Regions from separate parts of the Homo sapiens genome. Here all the other regions are linked to region 1. Evidence: fine-mapped expression QTL. A gene starts in region 1. Each other region holds a variant in brackets. All regions are shown on one strand. Distances are from middle to middle.

Region 1 (6,129 bases):
TAGAGGGCCGGGTGCAGTGGCTCATGCCTGTAATCCCAGCATTTTGGGAGGCCAAGGTGGGTGGATCACTTGAGGTCACGAGTTCAAGACCAGCCTAGCCAAAATGTTGAAACCCCGTCTCCACTAAAAAATACAAAAATTAGCCAGGCATGGTGGTGTGCACCTCTAGTCCCAGCTACTCAGGAGACTGAGGGAGGAGAATTGCTTGAACCCAGGAGGCAGAGGTTGCAGTGAGCTAAGACTGAGCCACTACGTTCCAGCCTGGGCGACAGAGCGAGACTCCATCTCAAAAAAACAAAACAAAAGAGTACTACTAGATTTTGCACAGGAAAAATATTCACATATAAGTATCAAGGTTAACGTTACCAAATGATTTTAAATTTGGATTAACCAAGATATTTACTAAATGCTACCATCTGGGATAAATCCATTCTCACTTAATCTTTCACACAGATTGAGCTTCACATGGTACAAGATATTTCCCACGAAGTATACCAGAGGATAAGAGCTTGGGATTTAAATTCCAACAGGCAGGGTTCAGGTACCACCCTTGCTAGTACTAGCATCACTGCACAACTGCTATCTTCTAAGCTTGAGTCTGCATGTGTGTAAATGGGAATAATGACAATAACATCTCCCTCACAGGTCCACTGTGAGGATTAAATGAGGAAAGGCACGTACTCCTTAGTAGTCATCACATAATCATATATGTAAACATTTAGTCAATGGTGGTTACTATTTATAAACCAGTAAAATCTCTCCCACATGCTCCTTAGCCATTAGCACATTTTTTTAAATGATAAAAGTGATAAGCATCTTGTGAATGAAGACATTTTGGAAAATACAGAGACGTATAAAAAAGAGGCCATAGACTCTTACCTCCACCCAACTCTAATTATCTGCCTATTTCATATAAACAGGGGTATAAAATTTAAAAAGAGAGTAATACATGTATTAATTTTTTGGAGACACTGCCAGTTTTGATGCAAGTTATCTTTTTTTTGTCACAATAAAAATGCCTTTCATTATTGGTCTGGATGTTTTGTACCTTCTCCAGTACTAAAAGAAATGTCTGTTTAAATTTAGAGAAGGAGGGGAAGGGCACTTGAACACTATGGGAGGTTCTACTGTAGAATTCTGGAAGAAGAAAAAGGTGTAAATTATTTCACAATAGAGTAGAAATTACAGGAAGTCCAAACAGAACCAACTGTTACAGTAATGAATAAGGAAAAGGTACCAAGTCTCTTTCTTGGCTGTCATGTAATAACAGACTTGAGTTGCAACAGCTGGGGTGTATGCAAGTTCAGGGGATGATTTTACATGTGCCATTTAATCCAGGTACACTAGACTAGTACCTTTCTCAAAACTCAGAAAATAAATTGCTGTGAAGTATAAAAGGATTCAACCCTGATTACAAATGGGATAACAGGTAATTTTTGCTTAAAAAGAGCCTCTAGGAAACAGGAGGTTTGATCAATTTGTTTCATGTACTTCTACTTCTTCCCTTTAGGGTGCCTCAGAATGACCTAGTTCTCCCTTCTCTGTGTTAACACATGACACATCTTTCTCTGACAGTCAAAATTCGCAGATTATCCAAGTTTTAGAAGCCAAATTATACTTGTCCCTTTGTTGCCTGCGGACCTGGGGCACTGCCTATGAGTGTTTCAAGCGACAACCCAGATGTTTTTAACCTTTAAAAAAAAATTTTTTTTAAATACAAGGTATTTCTCTGTTGCCCAGGCTAGAGTGCAGTGCCATGATTATAGCCCACTGCAGTCTCCAATGCCTGATCTCAGATGATCTTCCTGCCTTCATTCCAAGTAGCTGGCACTACAGGCACACGCCACCAAGCCCTGCCAATTTTTTGTATTTTCAGGAGAGACGGAGTCTCACTATATTTCCCAGCCTGGTCTCGAACTCCTGAACTCAAGCGATCCGCCTGCCTCAGCCTCCTAAAGTGCTGGGATTACAGGCGTGAGCCACTGCGCCCGGCCTAAGATGCATCTTAAGGGGCACTGTTCTATTTCTACCATCTCGAATAGTATTTGGCCAACTCTTTCCAGCTATGTCCTGAATTTAAAGTGGAAAAAGGAGAAGAAGAAAATTATAACAGGTCTCTATTTAAAACCTGACGATTTAATCCTTCGCTGAACTGGGTTACAGAATTTTTCGAAAGTCAAATGGAGCTTCGGGACGGGCCTGCCTATGACCTGCACCTTGGGCCACCTTCCCCAGGGGCACCTGCCAAGGTGCAGGTTAGGGCGACTCAGTCCTTTGTCCCCACTGCAAGGGTTGGGAAGAGAAACGGGGGAAGCCGAGGCCGAAGAGCCGGCCTAACTTCATTTCCACAAATGATTCCCGGTGACCTCAAGTTAGAGTATGAGCCACTGGAGTGCAGGGTACGGGAAAAAGGAGAATTTGGGGCAAGGGGCACTTCAATTTGCCGCCTAAATTCGCATGACCAGGCCTAAATTCGGATGCGTTGCCATTTCCCACAGGGAAAGGCTCCGTGCGGCTACCAGTTCACATTCCTCCAGCTGAGTGCAAGCGGCTCCGCTCTCCCTCGGCGTCCGCGGACACCCGGGCACTGCTCCCCGGAGCCACGCAGCAGCCGGGGCATGGCCGGGGCCAGGCCGAGGGAGCGCCGTGCTGCGCCCGGGAACCCGCCAGGGCCTCCCAGGCCGGGTCCCGCCTCTGCTGCCCCCTGCTGGCTGCCCGCGAGCCGGGGCGCCCCGAACTCTCAGCGCCTTGACCACCGCGGCTCGGGACCGGGGCGCGGTTACCTCTTGGGGACATCAAAGGCTCGGCAGGCGGCGGGGCGCGACGGCTCCCCACACTTGGTTTTCCCATAGCGGATCAGGTCCTGGAAGATCGCGCAGCCCGGGAGCAGGCCGGGCGGCAGGAGCTGCAGCAGTAGGGTCAGCAGGAAGGCGGCGGTCAGCGTGAGCCACACCGCGCGCAGCGGGTTCAGCGCCGAGTGCTCGGCCTCCGCCCAGGGAGCCATGGCCCGCGTGCCCGCCTTCCGCGCTGCTGGCGCCCCCACCGCCCGCTAGCCCGCGGAAGAGCGGCCACTAGCGCGCGGCGCACCGGTCTCAGCCTAGCGGGACGTCGGTGACGCGGCGCGGGGCGGGGACGCGCAGAGCCCCTCCCGGACTCGCCGCTCAGCCGCGGAGGTCCTTGGTCCTGGTCGCGCTGGCGCTGGGTGGTCGCTCGCAGTCCCTAATCTGGGCATGGGGATTCTTAGATGGAGCTCCAGAATATGATTCATCAGAAGCAAAGACGCAAAACAGACGAGACCACGTGTCTGCCACTCTTATCAACATTATCTCCAAAGCAAAAAATGGAAACCTTACATGTTGCATTTTAGTTTATTTAGCTAAATTATGATACACTGACATGTTAGAATATCATGCAGTCATTGAGAATTATTATGACGAGTGTAGAAACAGGGAAAGCTGTTTAGGAAACAATATGTGAAGTGAAAAACAAAACCAACCATAAAAATACATAGCTATGATTGCAAACAACTATATTAATATGAATGTGTGTATATATGGATAAAGAAGGCAGATCACACCCAAAAATGAATAATTATGTTAGGATGCTGGAAATGTGTTGGATATGTGTATAATGTAAACATGTAGACAAGTAATTGCACATAATAATAAAAATCATAGTGGTAAAAACTGTGTTTAAAAAACAGCAGTCGCTTACCAATAGGGTTCCAATCCTTAGAAGCAAAGTTTTTAAATTCCATCAGCTGTTTCCTGTAACATTTATCTCAGGTAGTGACAATGCTATTTATTGACTCACTGATTTTAAACAACACTGATTTTATTTACTATAAGTGAAAATCTAGCTCTTTTAAGTATTTAAAAGTCTTTAAAATGTTAATTCTGAAGTATTGTATGCCTACTGTATGACAGGCATCATTTTGGATACTGAGGACAGAGGGGTTTACAAGATAATTGTCACTGCTTATTTGGAGCTTACATTTTTGAGATTGGGTGGTGGGTGAGAAGTGGAAGAGGGGAGAGGTAGCCAACTCATCACCCTTACCCCAATGAGATACCCGATATGTGTGTTGAATAAACATCAGGGTGGGTAGGTTAGTGGGACTTTGGACTGTTAAATGAGCAAGCTTTTAAAGTTTTCTTCTTTGTGCAAAAGACACCTAAGGCTTTACCCGTCCTTTGACAGCCAGGTGATTAAGGATGGTTAAATTGGCATTCTAGCTAGGACAATGAGGCCTTATTGAGTGATCCTGGATCTCTTTTGCGGGAGTCACCCTTTCACTGTTTCTTTCTTTTCTTTTTTTTTTTTTTGAGATGGAGTCTCGCTTTGTCGCCCAGGCTGGAGTGCAGTGGCCTGATCTCTGCTCACTGCAAGCTCTGCCTCCCAGGTTCACACCATTCTCCTACCTCAGCCTCCCGAATAGCTGGGACTACAGGTGCCCCCCCAACCACGCCTGGCTTTTTTTTTTTTTTTTTTTTTGTATTTTTAGTGGAGATGGGGTTTCACTGTGTTAGCCAGGATGGTCTTGATCTCCTGACCTCGTGATCCATCTGCCTCGGCCTCCCAAAGTGCTGGGATTACAAGCATGAGCCAATGCTCCTGGCACCCCTTCACTGTTTCTTTATTTTTCTTAGGTTAACTCTCTGTAAATGCAGCTGGTCTGTCCATGATCTTTTTCTTTTCAGAGAAGCTACTTGTAAGTGCATTGCAGGGACTCAGTTTCCTGGGTAGGAGTTTCTCTTACAGTTGTCTGACCTGGGGCAAGATTGAAAACAAGATAAGTGTGTGTGTATGTGTGAGTGTGTGTGTAGTGGAAACAGGAAGGGTTGAGGAGGCTGGAGGGGAAAATCATCCCATATATTTTTTAGATTTTTTTTTTTGAGACCGAGTTTCACTCTTGTTGCCCGGGCTGGAGTGCAATGGCACGATCTTGGCTCACCGTGACCTCTGCCTCCTGGGTTCAAGCTATTCTGCCTCAGCCTCCCGAGTAGCTGGGATTACAGGCATGTGACACCACACCAGGCTAATTTTGTATTATTAGTAGAGACGGGGTTTCTCCATGTTGGTCAGGCTGGTCTCAAACTCCCGACCTCAGGTGATCCGCTTGCCTCGGCCTCCCAAAGTGCTGAGATTACAGGCGTGAGCCACCCTGCCTGGCTATTTTTTAGATTTTAATCAGCATGCACAGTTTATATTCAGAGAAGCCCCCTGTAGATGGCAGTGGCTGAACAGAAAGCCGTAAGTTAAACCCTCCTGGGAGTATTTGTAAATGTAAATCCTTACTGGAGTGAGTTAGTTCAAAAGTGGAATACCAGGCTAACATCTGTTAGAAAGATCATTGCTAATAAATATCAGTGAGCATTTTTGTCTTTCTTCATTTAATTAACTGCACTATATGTTCAACAAACTACTGGTATTGCCTGCAGTAAACGGCAAAGCCATTTTTCCAGTTGCTCAGGCCAAAAACCCTAAACTCAACCTTGATTCCTGTCTTTCTCTCATAGCCTAAATGCAATCTGTCAGCAAATCCTGTTGGCTCTACCTTCAAAATATGAATCTAAATTCAATTATCCTTAGAGTCAGTGCTTTAAGTCCCTAGCCATCTCAATAAATCAGAAAAAGAAATAAAACATATAAGGACTGCTAAGTAAGAAATAACGCTGTCATTATTTGATGATTATATGAAACTCCAATAATAGAAACTCCAATGGCATCCACAGATAAGGTATCAGAACTAGTAGGCAGTTTGGGGAGGTTGCTGGAGATAAAAATCTGTTCATAAATATTATTTCTATTTCCCAGCAACAAACAGGAAATTGTACATTTTTATTTCTCATCAACGAACAAAAATTTGTATGTTTCAAAGGTACAATTCACAATGGCATAAAATATATGTCTAGGAATAAATCTAATAAGGATATGTAAGATGTTAGAAATACCAAAACTGTTAGAAATAGATAATCGGTGCCATGAAGAAAAGTCAGCACAGAGACAAAAGATCTCTCAGCAAGGCCATCTTTACTTTCTGCAGAAAGGGTGCTCATTCGCAGATGGAACAATGTCGAGAGCAAACTTGAACAAAGGAAAATGAGACATATTTATCCCTTACGCATT
Region 2 (6,129 bases), 130 kb before region 1:
ATAGAAAGGTGTGGCTAAAGGAGTGAATAGGGAATTTATGTAAAACTTCATAAATCAGCAGAAACTTTAATATTGCTCCTAGGGTTGAGTTAGCCACCAATGCTCTTGATTTTATTTTTTAGGAATGGTCTTTCCTTACATCTTCCCATAGCCAGCCCCTTCTTGTCACTTAGATCCTAGCTCACGTGTCCCCCACTAACCGCTCAGACTGCAGTTACTAAAACATCACCCCTTTAAAAAAAATTAAAACTCATCTCTTTTTTTTTTTTGAGACAGAGTCTCACTCTGTTGGCCAGGCTGGAGTGCAGTGGTACGATCTCGGCTCACTGCAAGCTCCACCTCCTGGGTTCACGCCATTCTCCTGCCTCAGCCTCCTGAGTAGCTGGGACTACAGTTGCCCATCACCACGCCCGGCTAAGTTTTTGTATCTTTAGTAGAGACTGGGTTTCACTGTGTTAGCCAGGATGGTCTCGATCTCCTGGACCTCGTGATCCGCCCGCCTCGGCCTCCCAAAATGCTGGGATTACAGGCGTGAGCCACTGCGCCTAGCCTCATCTCCCATTTTTATACTTGTTTCTATCTACTAGAAAATGAGGCTGGGTACGGCAGCTCACACCTGTAATCCCAACACTTTAGGAGGCTGAGATAGGAAGGTCATTTGAGCCCAGGAGTTCAAGACCAGCCTGGTCAACATAGCAAGACCCCATCTCTACAAAAATATAAAAAAACTAGCCAGTCATGGTGGCATGTACCTGTGGTCCCAGCTACTCAGCAGGCTGAGGCAAGAGGACTTCTTGAACCCAGGAGGTTGAGGCTGCAGTGAGCCATGTTTGTGCAACTGCACTCCAGTCTGGGCAGCAGAGTAAGACCCTGTCTCCAGAAAAAAAGGAAAAAGAAGGAAAAACTGTAGGAAAGCAGCTAAATGTCTTATTCATTGCTTACTAAACATGTCCAGAACAGAGCACATGAGTGCTAATACATATTTGTCAAATGAATTAGTAAATGAATGAAATGTATTAATATAAGTTAATGCATTACATTGTGATGTTTACGAGTAATTGTGGTTTTAGAAAGTAAATATCTAAGAAAAAATTTAAATTATGCTGTTATAGTTAAAAATAATTTTATATAATGGCAAACACTGACTTTCTATACGTTTTTACCGTTACTAAAAGTTTGAAACAAGATATTTAAACTGGTTAAATTCTTGTTTAGCATGATGTGTTCATAATATAGCTAAGTATAAATACTTTTACAATTTATGTAATAAGCTTAAAAATATAATTATTACTGAATTTTGATTTTTGAATGTTTACTAGGAAATAGGTTAGTAGTTTGAATGTTATAACTCATTAACTTTACAAAAATCATAGGGCATAACTGAGTTGATTTACATGTCACTTTAGTATTGCTGTTGCTTAGTGAGTCTGCTCTTACTTTCTCTATCCGCTTTCTTTTAGAGATGACAGTAGTATTTTTGATGGGTTGGTGGAAGAAGATGACAAGGACAAAGCGAAAAGGTAGTTTGATTAGAGATATAAAATAGTAAATGAATGAATAATAGATAAATATAATGGTAAATAAATAGTGAATAAATGATTTCCAAAAGCTATGTGCTTTAGGAGTTTAGATATATTAGCAAGGTGGAAGAACTTAGAATATTGGTATGTAGTTTATAAATTAAATATCTTCTGACCTTTTGGAAAAGTATTATGCTTTGCTTAAACAGAAACTGAATTAGAAAATCTGACTTCAAAGCAGATAATTACAGGTATCATAAAATGATTGTTTTATAAATAATCAAGTTTTTCTCAATAGCTGTTTGTTTACTGGTTACTGCTTCACATAGAATAGCGTCTTTATTCATTTAGTACATATATTTATAATAACCATGTAAGTTAACAATCACTGGAAGTATTAGATTGAATAAAACTTGTGATTTGAATGCAGTTTTTCTTATTGGCATTTTCATAAAAACATGTTTGTCAAATGTATGATTTGTAAAATTTTCTTTAGTAATAAACTGAGCTGAAAAATTATTGCCCAAATTAACTGTATATTGGTAACCTGGAAGATATTTGTTACCATCTATGTTGATAGAAGTACATGCTGTGTCATGTCTAAATTAACATTGTATTAAACTACTTGTGTAATTAAATGGATTGTTTAAAAAATGCATATTTTTCATTTCATCAGAGTATCTAGAAACAAATCTGAAAAGAAACGTAGAGATCAATTTAATGTTCTCATTAAAGAACTGGGATCCATGCTTCCTGGTAATGCTAGAAAGATGGACAAATCTACTGTTCTGCAGAAAAGCATTGATTTTTTACGAAAACATAAAGGTAAATTTTTAACTCTGTAAAATGGAACAGACTCTCAAAGCATTAGTTAGAATCTTGGCAGAGATGCTTAAGATTGGATGCTTCCTTGGCTTTTTTAAGAGAGAGAAATCAATTGCATTTTAAAAGGTTTCCTAATATGTTCATTCTTTCATTCAACAAACATTTATTCCGTGCCTACTACATGCTAAATCCTCATGATGCAGGGTAACAGTCCTGGATTTGAAGTTAAGTCAAGCCAGGGCAGACAAACATGTAAGCACATAATTACAAATGTGAGTAGTGCTTGTAAACTGTTTGCAGCAAAAACACAGGAAAGAGTATGTCAGGGAGACTTTTAAAATAGTTGATTTTTCAACTGAGTCTTTTAGATTAAGGAAGACAGCATGTCACACAAAGGGAATATGTGCAAAAGCAGAGAGGCAGGGAGACTTCATTGTCACTGAAGCATGTTTGTGTTGGAAAATTATGGGTGTATTTGAAAGAAAGGAAAAAGCTGGATAGTATAAAGTTCTTATGTGTCATTTTAAAAGGTTTCAATGTATATCTAGTAAATCAACACTATAAAATAAAGTATTTGTTAATAGAAGAAAATCATCTTGACAAATGAGTCATGGAAAGAAAATTTAAAGAATAT[T/C]AAGTATTTTGGTAACAGATAATAATAGATTTAAAAAAAACCTGTAAAAGGAAATTTCCTTTTTCAAATGCAAATGAAACTGTAAAACTCAGGACAGTTAGTAATTAGTGCCTCTGTTTTACTTCTGCCTAGCTCAGTTGGTAATGCCTTACAGGACTGGTTTATGCTCCACCACTCGTTGAAAGTGTTTTTGTTAATTTCACTAATGACATTACCTTCCTATCCCTCAATAAAGCAATAGCTTTTTCTTATACCGCATCTTCTTCTGCATCTGTACAGCACTGGAAATTTTTATCCCTCCTCCCTTGGCTTCCCTTATATTGTACTTTCTCCTCCCCTTTTCTAACTGAAACTAACTTCTTTCCTCTCTTTCTACCCTCTAAATGTGACATTCCTAAGTCTTATCCTTGTTCTCTTGCTTTCTGTACACTCTTTCTCTTGCTTATCTCATTCCATAGCTTCAGCTATTGTGTCTCTATTAACCTACCAGATTTCTATTTTTAGATGCAAACATTTTAGCCATGTATTTCCAGATAACTTCTAGATCTTTCTTTTGCATGTCCTCAAACTCAGTGCATCTAAAATTGAATTTATTTTCATTTTGTCAAGTTACCTCTTTCTCTTAACTTGCCTTTTTTCATTTTTATACCACCATCCTTTTAGTCACCTAAGACTTAAACCTGAAAAAATTTTAGGATTTTTTTTCAGCTTCCTTAGCACCATATCACAGTTGCCAAATTCTGTTGATTCTTTCGTAAATGTGTCAATATTTATTGCCACCACTATTATTACATTTTACCTCTACAGATAGTATCTCACTAACCTCAGTGCCTATTGTTAAATGGCACACTCATTGAAACCAGTCCAAAGATACTAGGAGTTCAATAAATGGTTGTTGAATGAAATGAAATGCATATATTTCCCCGTCAATAGAGGATGAATTGTGGCATTAGGTAATTTTTTTTTTCAAAATCAGATACATAATTCTCACAAAAATAGTATTTCTGTTAAGGTAAAAGGATTTTATATATGTATCATCCTAAAATAGGCCTATGTTTAATGAAACTTGATTGGATTTGTTTGTGGATTTAAATCCTTTTCCCAAATGTATATAATTGATGTGAATTTGAAAAACACAACTGTATTCCGCACATTTAGTAGCTCTACTTCTTAGTTACTCTTCATATTCCACTACAGGCATTTCTAATATGCTAACTTTTGATGAGGGACAGTATGCTGTATTTCTCTATCTGATGATAAAATCAGAATTTAGTTTATACTTCTTACTACAAATTAGAGTATATTTTGTAGAATATAGTCTATGACATAGATTTTTATTCTGCCTGCTTGTTTTAATATGTCTACATTAAAAAATAGAAAAACATTTGTTACTAGGTTTCATCATTTATGAATAGCTTTTTCATAACTAAATCTATTAGAAGTATGTAGTGAAATAAAATGGTAATAATTGTGACAAACATATGTCCCACAGCAGGGATCTCCAAATTTTTCACCATCTCTCTACTGTTGTACAAGGAGGACACTAAGAAAAATCACTGTGGGAATATTACTGTAGTAAAGTTTTTGCATAAAATATTAATTTAGTCTCTTTGATTAATTAAGATAGAGCACTTAATGTTGGGAAGAAGCTTTTTGCCCAGCAGTAGGCAGGCCTAAGGCATTCTTTGTTGAAAGCAAACCTAGTGACCTCTTTGGCCTTTTTCAGCTAATTTCCCTAGTGCTGCTCTAGACATTGCTATTTGAATGGCAAGGGAAGGAAAAGGAAAAAAAGAATTGCTTCAAAATTCTTGGAGCAAAAATCTTCTTTGGTCATTGTGTCAAATAGGAAGCAATCTCAGGCCCATCAGCAACATAACTATCAGAGTACCAAGAGAAAAACCGAAGAGACTGGTATTACCAAGAGACCAAATCCAAGGAGATAACTTGCCATGTTATCTCAAATATTTCATCATACCAAAACCTGGACCTCTTGATATCTACCCAATAAATGTTAATGCCTACGGTTGTCATCTTTAATTAGAATGGGAAGAGACAAGATAACTTGTAGGGCTTTTGTACTCCTCCGGTGGTTGGAGTATGCCACTAATATGTCAATCTGTTTACAGAAATCACTGCACAGTCAGATGCTAGTGAAATTCGACAGGACTGGAAACCTACATTCCTTAGTAATGAAGAGTTTACACAATTAATGTTAGAGGTATGTCCAGATTTAATTTTTGAAAGTTTTATTTTCCTCAAAAAAGAAATCACAGGGTGACTTAATATCCAGGTGTACCTTGGCGATATTGCGAGTTGAGTTCCAGACCACTGCAATAAAGCTAATATTTCAGTAAAATGAGTCACATGAATTGTTTTGTTTCCCTGTAGTCTATTAGGTGTGTAATAACATTATATAAAAAATACTGATCATACCTAAATTTAAAAATACTTTATTGCTAAAAAATGCTAACAATCATCTGAGCCTTCAGCAAGTCTTAATCTTTTTGCTGGTGGAAGGTATTGCCTCAGTGTCAGTGGCTACTAACTGATTAGGGTGGTGGTTGCTGAAGGTTGGGGTGGCTACGGCAATTTCTTAAAATGAGTCAGCAATGAAGTTTGCCACACTGATTCACTCTTCCTTTCAAGATTTCTCTGTAACATGCAGTGCTGTTTGATAGCATTTTACCCAGAGTAGAACTTCTTTCAAAATTACAGTCAGTACTCTCAAACCCTGCTGCTGCTCTATCAACTAAATTTATGTAATATTCTGTATCCTTTGCTGTCATGTCAACAGTATTCACATCTTCTTCAGGAGTAGAGTCGATCTCAAGAAATCACTTTGTTTACTCATCAGTGGAGCAACTCCTCATCAGTTCGGGTTTATTAGCAGATTGCAGCAATCAGTCACATCTTCAGACTCCACTTTTAATTCTAATTCTCTTGCCGTTTCTACCACATCTGCAGTTACTTCCTTCACTGACATCTTGAACCCCTCAAAGTTATCCACAAGTAATCAACTTCTTCTTAACTCTTGGTAATGTTGATATTTTGACCTTCTCCCATGAATCAGAAATCTTCTCATGCCATCTAGACGGGTGAATTCTTTCCAGAAGGTTTTCAGTTGACTTTGCCCAGATCCATCACATGAAT
Region 3 (6,129 bases), 110 kb before region 1:
ACTCCTTTATTTCAGATGGAAGACGTGAGCAAATTTAAAAGTAGATAGTAAGGACCCTTGGCCAGGTGCAGTGGCTCTCGCCTATAATCCCTCCACTTTGAGGCAGGAGGATTGCTTGAGCCTAGAAGCTTGCAACCAGCCTGGGCAACATAGTGAGACCCCATTTCTATAAAAAATTAAAAATTAGCCAGGCATGGTGGCTCACACCTGTAGTCTTGCGTACTTGGGAGGCTGAGGCAGGGGGCTCACTTGAGCCCAGGAGTTCAATGCCACAGTGAGCAGTGATCATGCCACTGCACTCCAGCCTGGGTGACAAATCAAGACCCTGTCTCAAAAAAAAGAAGAAAGTAAGGACCCAAAGGTGTAGATGCTAAAGGAATAAGGAACAGTGATGTGGCCCGGGTCCTAGAGAAAATAGGAAAGACTATAAATGGTAGAGATGGAAGGATTAGCTTTAGAATGTGAAGCAAAACTTTCCTTTGAAAGTGAGTAAAGAATGAAAAGGATGAGTAGCTAAAAATAGGGAAACATTAAGTTGTTTGCACCAGAAAATCTATTTTTTCTATTAAAGACAAAGTGAGATCCTCTCCTGAAGGTGCTCTACTTTTATGAACTAAATGTCATTGACGACTTCTGTTGGGGAAAATAATGGTTGTAAACTTACACAACTTTTATGATCTTACTTTATGTGGTATATCAATCATTGTTTTATATCAGAAATATGTGATTTTTAAAATCTCTTTTATTTCAGCAAAAAATCAGTTAGAATTCTGTTGTCACATGCTGCGAGGAACAATAGACCCAAAGGAGCCATCTACCTATGAATATGTAAAATTTATAGGAAATTTCAAATCTTTAAACAGTGGTGAGTTAAAATGCTTCTCTCACAATGTGTTTTAACTTGTTATTTTTCTGTGCTCTTAAAGACATAGATGTTTGAATATCAGTGACAATTAGGTTTTGCTGGCATAACTGATGATACATATTTCCCTATTGTTTTAGTATCCTCTTCAGCACACAATGGTTTTGAAGGAACTATACAACGCACACATAGGCCATCTTATGAAGATAGAGTTTGTTTTGTAGCTACTGTCAGGTTAGCTACACCTCAGTTCATCAAGGTATGTTTTTAATTTTATTTCCCAAAGGGGATTTCAGTTCATATGCTGAGAGCTGCCTGAAACTTCCTGCAGACATTGAGGTGGAATGGCTATGAGTCATTAAATATGCATGATAATATTTTTGAAACGATGAGTTATCAAGACACTCATTAAATTGTATAACTAATTTTTTAGTATATATCCTTTGCAGTTAACCAGTGATTATTATATATCAATATTGCCCTACTTTTGTGGAAGATTTTAGGATCCTTTTGTGTGTTGTTCATTATCTCTATTAAAAGGGAAAGTCCAAAAATCTAGGTTTTTGGAATCTTTATTTTTAGAAGGTAACTTTTAAATTTTTATTTGAAATGTACAAGTGGCTCTTTGCCACATATAACTTACCTTTTCAAATGTAAAATTAGGTATTTTATTTTTATTTCCTGGACCCAACAAACAGATGACAAGTAGGGAAGTGGGAAAGTGAAAGAGTTAACCACTAGAAACTGACTGGAAAGAGGCAGCCAGGCTAAGATTTAAAATTTCGGCGGGGCCAGGCGAGGTGACTCATGCCTGTAATCCCAGCACTTTGGGAGAGCAAGGCGAGAGGATTGCCTGAGCCCAGTAGTTTGAGACCAGCCTGGGCAACGTGACAAGACCCCATCTCTACAAAAAATACAAAAAATTAGCCAGGCATGGTGTTACACACCTGTGGTCTCAGTTACTCAGGAGGCTGAGGCAGGAGGATCATTTGAGCCCAGGAGGTCGAGGCTGCAGTGAACTGTGTTTGCATTTTATTTTGAGACAGAGTCTGACTCTGTCTCAAATAAATTTGGGGGGACATCATAGTATAGGACAAAGTACTGAATTAATAGAAGATCTTAAGCCAGTCTTGCTTGGTTTGTTTTGATCTTATGAAATAATAGTTGTTAACATTTGAGTGCTTACTACATGCTGTGTATTTTATATGCATTATCTCATTAATTCTTATGACAACCCTATAAGTTAGATGCCATTACGATCCCTCATTTTACATTATAAGGAAACAGGCTTAGGGAAGTTAAGTGACTTGCCCAAAGTCTCAGCTATTAGTGATGAAACTGGGACTTGATTCTATTAATTAATAATTGTTTTTTTCTCAAAGCCCAAGCTCTCAACTATTACAGAGTGCTGCAGGTCATTCAGGGACACAGAGGCAGGATGGAATACATTGTTTAGTATGACTAGAGTCTAGGGTTAGTGTGTGGAGGGGGAAGAGATAGTGGGAGGTAAGGCTAGAAAAGTAATCAGAAACCAGAAATAAAATTTGTTTCTTTCTTGTTTATTTCTCCATGCTGAAGAGAGTTTAGCACAAGGAACCACTGAAGGTTTTTTAGCAGGGAAGTCATATAATATTTGAGTATTGGTAAGGTAATTGTGGCCCTAGAAGAGAAGATGAGTTGAAGGACAGGGAGACTGGTGAACACTGTAGCAAATCAGTGA[T/C]GGCAGGGGTCTAAACCAATGCACTCAAGATGGATGAGATAGAATTGATTTTTAAAATACTTAGATGAAATGGAAAAGATTTAGTAATGGCCACTTAGATGATGAAAGGTAAAAATGAAAGAGTATGTTTTTTTAACTATCAGATTTCTAGACACTGGCCACTACACATGTATAGAATAATACGGAAAATTGTGTGATTGGGTGTGAGGAGTAAAGCAGTTAGTTTATTTTAGGACATATTGAATTTGAGATGTATGAGGACATTCAGATATTTGGAAATATGGAACTGTAATTCAGGAGAGAGGTCTGAATTTTGAATAAGCGTTTATAGGCATGTGTGAATGGAAAATGTGTAGAGTGAGAAGTACCCACCCAAAAGCTTGCATCTAAAGGTTATTTATTACCACATTCTTTAGTACTGGAAAATTAAAATATATTAACTTGTTTAGAAGGGCCTGCATTTTGGCTTATGCCTAGAATCCCAGCACTTTGGGAGGCTGTGGTGGGCAGGTTGCTTGAGCCCAGGAGTTGAAGACCAGCCTAGACAACATAGACCCCCCACCTCTACAAATAAAAATACAAAAATTAGCCGGGCGTGGTGGTGCATCCCTATAGTCCCAGCTACTTGGGAAGCTGAGGCAGGAGGATCGCTTGAGCCTAGGATGTTGAGGCTGCAGTGAACTGAGATCACACCACTGTACTTCAGGCTGAGTGACAGAGTGAGACCCTGTGTCAAACAAAGAAATAGGTAAATATATACATACATAGAAACAACTAACTTGTTTAGGAAAAGTTTATCTAGTAATGACTATTTATTTATGTATTTATTTAACCTCCACCTCCTGGGTTCAAGTGATCCTGCTGCCTCAGCCTGCCGAATAGCTGGGATTACAGGTGCCCGCCACCGTGCCCTGCTATTTTTTGTATTTTTAGTAGAAATCGGGTTTCACCATGTTGGCCAGGCTGGTCTCAAACTCCTGACCTAAGTGATTTGCCCACCTCAGCCTCCCAAAGTGCTGGGATTACAGGTGTGAGCCACTGCACCTGGCCATGACTTATTTTTATATGTAGCAATATTTAATATTCTTAAGGACACAAAGTATTTATAAATTTTAATTATTTATTTGTAGGAAATGTGCACTGTTGAAGAACCCAATGAAGAGTTTACATCTAGACATAGTTTAGAATGGAAGTTTCTGTTTCTAGATCACAGGTAATTCCATTTTTAAATTCCATGAAAAGGTAATAGTCATGTTATATAATTCTTGAAATTAATGGATCAAGGGCAAACTTTTTTTTAAATTAGGACTTTGAAACCTGTTCCCATTTTTTGAAAAATAAAGCCCCCCCCCCAAAGTTTATTTCTAGTTGAAATATTTCTTATTATGGAAAAACTTATAATAATGATTGTTTTCTGTGTAATTTAGGGCACCACCCATAATAGGGTATTTGCCATTTGAAGTTCTGGGAACATCAGGCTATGATTACTATCATGTGGATGACCTAGAAAATTTGGCAAAATGTCATGAGCACTGTAAGTAGATTTTAACATTTCTGGTGATAATAACTGTTTTATAAGCAGAAGTCCTGTCCTGAAATGATAGGTAGTAAGACACAGATTTATAATCATTTTCATATTTTTGAAATATGCTAAAAGATTTTGCTTTATGTATATAACCAATGTAGTAGGAATCATAGATCAAGTTTAAACTTGTTCCTATTTTTATAATAAGTAGAATTTTATAATATTGCATCTAATACACCTTGTTCTGAAGCACGTGAGCTCTATATCTGGAGTAAGAGAAGTAGATTCCTTTGAAAATTGTAATACTTCAAACTTTTGGAGTATTGTTTCCTAAATTTTGATTTTGAGGCATGTGAATCTTTTCAGGAGCTAGGTACATGTCTGGAAAATCTGTCTTAGAAAGCTCATAGTAAGTGCTTGGTGTTATCTGCTTATTATTGTTGTTAGAGCAGGAGCATTATCATCCTTTGTGCCAGGCACTGTTCTAAACACTTTACATCTATTATCTTCATTATTCTCCATCACAGTTCTAAAAGGTAGATGCTATTATTATCTTCATGAGTAAGCTGAGAACACAGTAAGGCTAAGTAATTCACCCATAATTTCATAGCTCATTGGTGGCAGAGACAGGATTGGAGCCTAGGCCTACTCTTTTTATCACATGTATTTATTTTAGAAGTTTGTTTTAATGATGAGGTTTGCCTTAATGATATGTTTTATTTGCTTCTCTGATCCTCCTCCCAGATGCTTACCATCTTGAGTGTTCACTAAAGCTTAACTAGATATTTTAGACCTTTTCATGACGTTTTATGCTGCTGTTATAAACCTCACTGTATGAAAATGAAGCAGGTTGTATAATAGCATTAACTCTATGGAAAATTTTCAGAGTAAAGTCATTTCAGCACAAAAGATGTGGGCATTAAGCACCATGATGTTGTCTAAAGAGCTGATACCTCTATTAACTAGCTGGGTAACTTTGGACAGCAAGTTTGTTTGTAGACCTTGATTTCCTCCTTAGAGAGTGAGAGGCGGTGGCGGCGGGGTTGGGGGGTGGGGGGACAGATTGAGAGATTCTTGACTAGCATTTTCTAAGGTTTGTTCCACCGAATGTTGGTCCATAAAAAAAGACTTTATAGTCAAGGAAGATGGGGAAACACTTCATAATCCCTCAGAGAATCTGCACATGCATTAGCATACTCTAGGTTTTGAGAAAACTGAAGACACCTATTTAACAAAAAGTTTCCCAAATTAATTTAACTACAAACCCTTTTTTTTTTTTTTTTTTTTTTTTTGGGATGGAGTCCTGCTTTGTCACCCAGGCTGGAGTGCAGTGGCGTGTCTCAGCTCACTGCAGCCTCCACCTCCCGGGTTCAAGTGATTCTCTTGCCTCAGCCTCGTGAGTAGCTGGGATTACAGGCACGTACCACCATGCCTGGCTAATTTTTGTATTTTCAGTAGAGATGGGGTTTCACTATGTGAGCCAGGGTGGTCTCAAACTCCTGACCTCAAGTGATCCTCCCACCTCTGCTTCCTAAAGTACTGAGATTACAGGCGTGAGCCACCACACCTGGCCCAAAACCCATTTTTTTGTTTAATATCTGTTAAAACGCTTCAGAACTTAAAATCCACAGCACATGTTTTGGCAGTTACTGCACTCAGTTACTTCAGACTCAGTTACTTTGATTTTGGTTAGTTAAGGTTTAAAATTAAATGCTTCAAAGATTCTGTGCCTGCCAGAGTAGTTAGGAGAAAAAACTCAGGGGTGATTATTTATTGTTATTACCCTCTGTATATCTAGGCAGGAGGAAGTCAGCAGTGTGAATTCTTAAGTATTAATTGTGTATGGAAAGATTGTAAGATCAGCAGTGACTAGCTGTGAATTGGGCACTGTAGATCTGATAATTGCTTGGGACCTTAAACTAGCTCTAAAGAATAACATTTTCATATTGACATATATGTTATCAAAAGGCCAGAAAAATAATAGTATGTGTAAACTTAAATGTAAATGATAGCTTTTGGTTA
Region 4 (6,129 bases), 210 kb after region 1:
TGAGATGAGCCTGGACAACATGGTGAAACCCATCTTTACTAAAACATAAAAATTAGCTGAGATCATGCCCACTGCACTTCAGCCTGAGCGACCGGGCAATATTCTGTTTCAAAAAAAGAAAAAAAAGAAAGAAAACATTTTATTATCAAAAATGTCATGCATATACAGAGGCACAGAGAAAAGTGTCGTACATCCTTACGTAATCATTGCTAATCTTCAATAATTATAAACTCCTGGACTATCCTGTATCATGTATATTCACATCCATCCCTCTATCCATCCAAAATAATTTGAATCAAGTCCAAGATAATATCATTTTACCTGCAAATATCTATGGTTCAGCAAATAGAAGAGAATACTTCTTAACTAATTTTATGAGGCTATCATTGTCAAGATAACAAAACAGAAACAGAAAAAAAAAACTGAAGACTAATATCCCTCATTAATATAGGTTCAAAAATTTTTAACAAAACATTGGCAAATTGAATCTAGCCATATATTAAAAAATAAAAGAAAGCACATTATATCTAAGTGGTTATTTTGCCAGGAATGCAAGTTTGGCTCAACATTCAAAAATCAATCAATGCAATTTGACATAGCAGCAGACTAAAGAAGAACAACCATATTATTATTTCAATAGAGTCAGAAAAAACATTTGACTAAATTCAACATCTATTCATCATAAATTCCAATAAGTTAGAAATAGAAGGGAACTTCCTCAGCCTGATAAAAAGTATCTATGGAAAACCTAAAACATCATACTTAATGATGAAAAACTACATACTTTCTTCTCAAGCTTGGATATGGGACAAGGATGCACATTCTCATTACCTCTATTCAACATTATATTAGAGATCCTAGTCTATGCAACAAGCCAACAAATAAATAAAAGGCATACAGATTGGAAAGGAAGAACTAAAACTGTCTTTATTAATGGTAACATTATCATCTACATAGAAAATCTCCAAATCTATCAAAACCTACTAGAACTAATATGTGAGATTAGCAAGGGCACAGGTTACAAGGACAATATAAAAATTGATTATATTTCTATATAATAGCAAAAAACAATTGGAGATTAAAACTTAAAAATGGTACCATTTACAATGACATCAAAGAATATGAAATACTTTGGGATACATCTATAAAAATATGGTCAGGATTTGGATGTTGAAAACTATAAAACACTAATGACGGAAATTGTAATAAACTCCAAGAGGGCCCCCAGTAACCCCTGCCCCTGGTATGAAAGTCCTGGAATTACTGTTCTCCCACACGGAAGAGGGCTGAACTGTGAACTAATAGGATACCGTGGACCTGACAGTGTATGACTTCTGGGTCTGGGTCATAGAAGACGTGTGGCTTCCACCTTGCTACCTTGGGTCACTTGCTCTGCGGAAGGCAGCTTCCATGACATAAGGACACTCAAGTAGCCCTATAGAGATTCCCAATATTTAGTGAAGACCTGAGTTCTCTTGCCAATAGTCATGTGAGTGAGTCACACCAGAAAGGTATTCTTCAGCCCCAGTCAAGCCTTCATATGACCACATCCCTTGCTGACATCTTGACCGCAAGCTCATGAAGGACCCAGAATCAGATCAACCCAGTTAGACTGCCCTCACTGACCTGCAAAAACTGAGATAATAAATTCTCGTTATTTGAAGCCACTAGGTTTTGGAGTCATTTGTTATGCAGTAATGGAAAATGACACAGGTTTTGGTACCTGGAAGTGAGATGTTGCCATAACAAATATTAAAAATGTGAGAGCATTTCTGTTCACGTTCTCTTACCCACCTGGGCAGATGAGATATTAATAAAGACACTTCCCAACTGGAAAGAATGAGTATGGTCTTTAATGGCTCTTTTAAAATTCAAATGTTAATCATATGTTTATTATTATTTAAACTATCGTTTTCAATTATAAATTATTAATAAAAACATTCAATAATATGAAAGAATATAGAGTAATAAATGAGACCCCTTCCATCATTACCACCCCATTCTGGTCCTCAGGAGTAATTAAGTTTCATGTGAGCCCTTCAAGACTTTTCTGCTATGCATATACATATAAAAAGTATTATGTGATGGTTGAAGAAAATTTGAGTCATTCATATTTTTCTCACTGAGGAATAACCGCTGTTAGATTCTGATGGGTATGGTTTTAGTGTGTATTCTGTACACAAGCACACACATACAGATGTTTTAAAACTTTTTGAAACACAAGCTTATAAAGAATTTTTTTTTTTTTTTTTTTTTTTTTTTTGAGTCGAGTCTCCGTCGCCCAGGCTGGAGTGCAGTGGCGTGATCTTGGCTCACTGCAACCTCTGCTTCCTGGGTTCAAGCAATTCTCTGCCTCAGCTTCCCGAGTGGCTGGGATTACAGGCGCCCGCCATCATGCCCGGCTAATTTTTTTGTATTTTTAGTAGAGACGGGGTTTCACCATCTTGACCAGGCTGGTCTTAAACTCCTGACTCGTGATCCACCCACCTCGGCCTCCCAAAATGCTGGGGATTACAGACACGAGCCACCACTCCCGGCCAAGAATTTTAAAGGTGGCTGTACTCTGGGGTCCTCATTCTAGACCCTAAAGAATTCTTTTAACTGGATATGAGTTAGCTCTACATATTACTCTAGTTTATTAGAATTTGACTTTTGATTTTAGGAGTTAGGAAGGGCAAAAGACGACACCACATACTCCATTATGTTCAGCAATGTTTCTAGATCAGATTAACTGATTTAGATGATGTATATTTCTTGAAACTCAATTTTGGTGTCTTCCTCCCACTCAATCCCCCTCACGCAGTTCTTCTTTCATTCATAGTAGCGTTTCACAAAAAGCATGACTCAGAAAAAAAGGAGAGAGCTGCCTCAACAAACATAAAAAGCTTATCTTCTGTTTGAAGCTAAGACTTGGAACGCTGTAATTCTTCCTATCAAAGTGAATTATTAGTACCAGACTGTTGACTTCAGACTTTTT[TA/A]CTTCTTCTACTTTTTTTCCCAGTGGTAGGTAGAAACATTTCATCAGTCAAATGTTAAATAGCAATTTGAAATACTCAGGAATGCTTTAAGAACTTGTTATAAATGCCCTTACATGTGGAAGACTCACCCTGAATCATGCCAAACACCTTAACAGTCATTCACATGAAACAGATTTTGGGGGGTGAAATGTATTTAAAAGTATTCTTCATAATTTTGAGTTTGTTAGGAATAAATTATTTTGCTCTTATGTGTTACGGTTTTCAAATTTCTCATGTATTTTTGGTGCTCTTTGGAAAGCTCACTGTGGCTCTTGTACCCAATGGACGGAATCATCCTGAAGCTATAAAGTTTTTATTTCTAAATTTTGGAAAGATATTTCTGTTCTCATGAACAAGAGTTTAACATGATGTCTCTCTACTTTGGCTGCACAACAGAATCATAGTAGAAAACAAATAAACAACAACAACAAAAATCTATTGATCAAATCTTTCCTCCCAAAGATTTTGATTTATGATGTAGGAAGGCGCCAGCTACCAGGTTTTCAAAGCTCCCCAGACCCTGCAGATTCTAATGTGTAGCCGGGGTTGAGAACCACTGATTCAACACTAATAAATCTCAAATAAATAAATACATAAGAAAGTTAAAACTTAAAAATAAAATGATACATATCCATAAATTCCCTAAGAAAAGGAACAATATATCTAGTGCATGCGTAATACTTTTAAAACATCTAAAATGCTGGTGTTTGCATAGATAAATCATAATTACCTTGCTATTAGAAAGCAAAGTAATGAATTAGTAGAGATTGCTTGGCAATCTGTGATCTGTGCTCAAGGAGCAGGCCTCTGGCACTGCAGCAGGATACTGGGTACATAACGTGGGGTGAAACCTCATGGCATGCCGCTGTCACAGTTACATGCTGGGGGGAGAAGTTCTGTATTTCCAAGTGTGGTTGTGGAGAATCTTTTCAATGCCTCTTCAAGATGCTAATAATCAAGATTAATCTTTAATGGTTAATGGATTCCTGACTGAAGAGAAGGCACTGGATTGTATAATCTCTGAAGGGCTCTCACAGTTATATGAGTTCCATCTCAGAGGTGGGACAACATCAAAGAATCAATTACCATGCTGCCCCATAAGACTTGTTGTCACAAGCCACTCTAGATATTTAACTTCTGATGGTCTTATTCTCTTCTGATTATGAGCTGAAAGATGTTCCACCTTTAATATGGGGGATCAGGTCAGGAAGAAAAGTATTGAGGCTAAGTGTATAGTTTGGGATGGAAATATGAGATGGATTGATTCTTAAATATATTAGTCTAGAATTCTAGCCAAGAGATGGTCAGAATTTGAATGGTCAATTTAATGTAAGAACAAACCATAAAGGACAGATACATTAAAAAAGAATTGGCAAGACTGAGTGGTAGTCTGAATGGGTGGGCTGAAAGATAAGTAGCTTTTTACTGTTTTGCCAACAGGTACATTTTATTGAGATTAGTAAATACAACCAGCATAAGAGTCAGCTTTGGAGTGTAGACTTTGGAAACACATTGCTTTGGCTCAAGTCCTGGCTCCTCCATACACAAGCTGCTTAGGATTGGGTAAGTTACTTAACCTCCCTCAGCCCTAATTTCTGCATCTGTGAAATGTGTAGCCTGATGGTGAGAATTAAGGGAGTCAACACACGTAAAATGCTTACAACAGGGCCTGACACATGATAACTCAATACATGTTAGTCATTATTATGATGATACTGTTGGATGCAGAAAAAACTATTTCAGAAGAAGAATGAAAATCTTGTCATCAATTATTTGGAAGTTTAGAGTAAACGATTATGTAAGCCACACTAAACTTGTCTTTCATCTTACAATATAATGAGAGAGACAGACACACATACTCAAATAAACCTGTTATAAGGCATGATATCCTTTATGTCACAACAGATATTCTTGGACCGTGGGGAATATAATTGTCATTGATTAGCTGTCTCTTTAACATCCATTTCCCCCTGCTTCCTAGAAAAATATTTAGAATTTTTTGAGTAATAGTCCCTTTTCTATTTTAATTATGTAGTTTGGTGTTATTGAGCCTATTCTTAATTGCAAAGGTGGACTCTGACATAGGCTATCAGATCCTTCCTGCTTCTGGTAATTGGTTTAGGGATAAGGCAATGAGATTTAAGATGTGCTTAGGTCAAAGGATCAAAGGATCTTCCCTTTTATTTCTCAAGAGACACTGTCTTTCTGTGGACAGTGTGGGGTGAGAATGTGTAGTCATGTTTTTTTTTTCTATTATGAGGACAGCCTGAAGGCAGAATTGAGAAAATCACAGAGAAAAACAGCAGGATGACACAATGAGACTCTGGAAAAAACTGTCTGAAGCCAGCCCATAACTTACAACAACATGATCCTATACATTCAGGCCAAATTGAGTTGGTTTTCCTGTTTCTTACAACTTAAGGAATCCTTACTCTTGCAGGCATGGAGAGAGTAAGTCAGATGGGGAGATGGGAATGAGTAGGGATTGCAGAGACTTCCTGGGGCCTCTTTTTAAAGAGGGGCCAACTACGTATGGGCAGATATTGGAATAAAGCACATTCAAGGCATACAGTAAGCAAGAGACAAAAAAGTGTAATGCATTTTCTGGAGGTGGCCACTGAAATCTAGAAAGTTGGACTAAGAGTATGTCCACGGTATACCGGGAGGTAAGTTGTATAAATAGGAAGCAGCAAAGAACAAAACCCTTAAATACAAGGCTTGGGATTTGGGGCTTTATGCTATGTACAGAGGTCAACTGTCCAAGGTGAAGGACAGATGAACTTTGTGTTTTAGGAAGATAACTTTGGCAGCAGAGTGATGAGTGGACTGGAATATTCCAGGAAAAAGGCAAACTGGTCACGAGTCAGGGCAGTCTGATGAATGAAAATAGGAGATGGATATGAGGGAAGTAAAGAATGTAGACAAAATTGGATTTGAGAGGAAAAGAAAAGGCAGGGGGATATCATGGAATGTAGTATAAGCATCTAGAGGGACTTCGAGCTTAAGAAGGCTGAAGGAGGCAGGGTGGGTATAAACAGACAAAGAATTCAGTTTTTGGCACTTTGAATTTAAGAAATTGGTGGAACATACACAGAGATGTCCAGGAAGAATT

Direction of the effects. Alleles are on the strand shown, and positions count from the first base shown. SD is a standard deviation of normalised expression in the study named. Not every link is listed here.
For the expression in anterior cingulate cortex of the gene that starts at base 3,099 in region 1, T is the low allele of the variant in region 3 and C is the other (small effect, 0.38 SD a copy in GTEx).

What was found. PIP is the estimated chance that this variant, and not a neighbour inherited with it, causes the effect.
Region 2: its variant is fine-mapped to the expression of SRD5A3 in whole blood (TOPMed, PIP above 0.99). The same link has a PIP of 0.9 or more in T cells, blood mononuclear cells, lung, monocytes and nasal epithelium.
Region 3: its variant is fine-mapped to the expression of SRD5A3 in anterior cingulate cortex (GTEx, PIP above 0.99).
Region 4: its variant is fine-mapped to the expression of SRD5A3 in spinal cord (GTEx, PIP above 0.99).

Annotation. Positions count from the first base shown.
Region 1 is chr4:55,343,212-55,349,340 of GRCh38, reverse strand. SRD5A3 (steroid 5 alpha-reductase 3) reads right to left here and starts at 3,099. Exons shown (of 5, transcript NM_024592.5): 1 at 2,784-3,099. The coding sequence starts at 3,004. RefSeq lists silencers at 2,517-2,786, 2,997-3,166 and an enhancer at 2,618-3,378.
Region 2 is chr4:55,475,031-55,481,159 of GRCh38, reverse strand. It overlaps CLOCK (clock circadian regulator), which reads left to right. Exons shown (of 23, transcript NM_004898.4): 5 at 1,461-1,520; 6 at 2,197-2,345; 7 at 5,106-5,197. Among named protein-coding and RNA genes, the nearest start is that of CLOCK, 69 kb to the left of the region's middle. The variant T/C (reference allele first, on the strand shown) is at 2,980.
Region 3 is chr4:55,453,884-55,460,012 of GRCh38, reverse strand. CLOCK (clock circadian regulator) reads left to right here. Exons shown (of 23, transcript NM_004898.4): 10 at 752-865; 11 at 1,003-1,121; 12 at 3,713-3,795; 13 at 4,010-4,116. Among named protein-coding and RNA genes, the nearest start is that of TMEM165, 61 kb to the right of the region's middle. The variant T/C (reference allele first, on the strand shown) is at 2,583.
Region 4 is chr4:55,135,317-55,141,445 of GRCh38, reverse strand. No RefSeq gene overlaps it. Among named protein-coding and RNA genes, the nearest start is that of KDR, 13 kb to the right of the region's middle. The variant TA/A (reference allele first, on the strand shown) is at 2,978.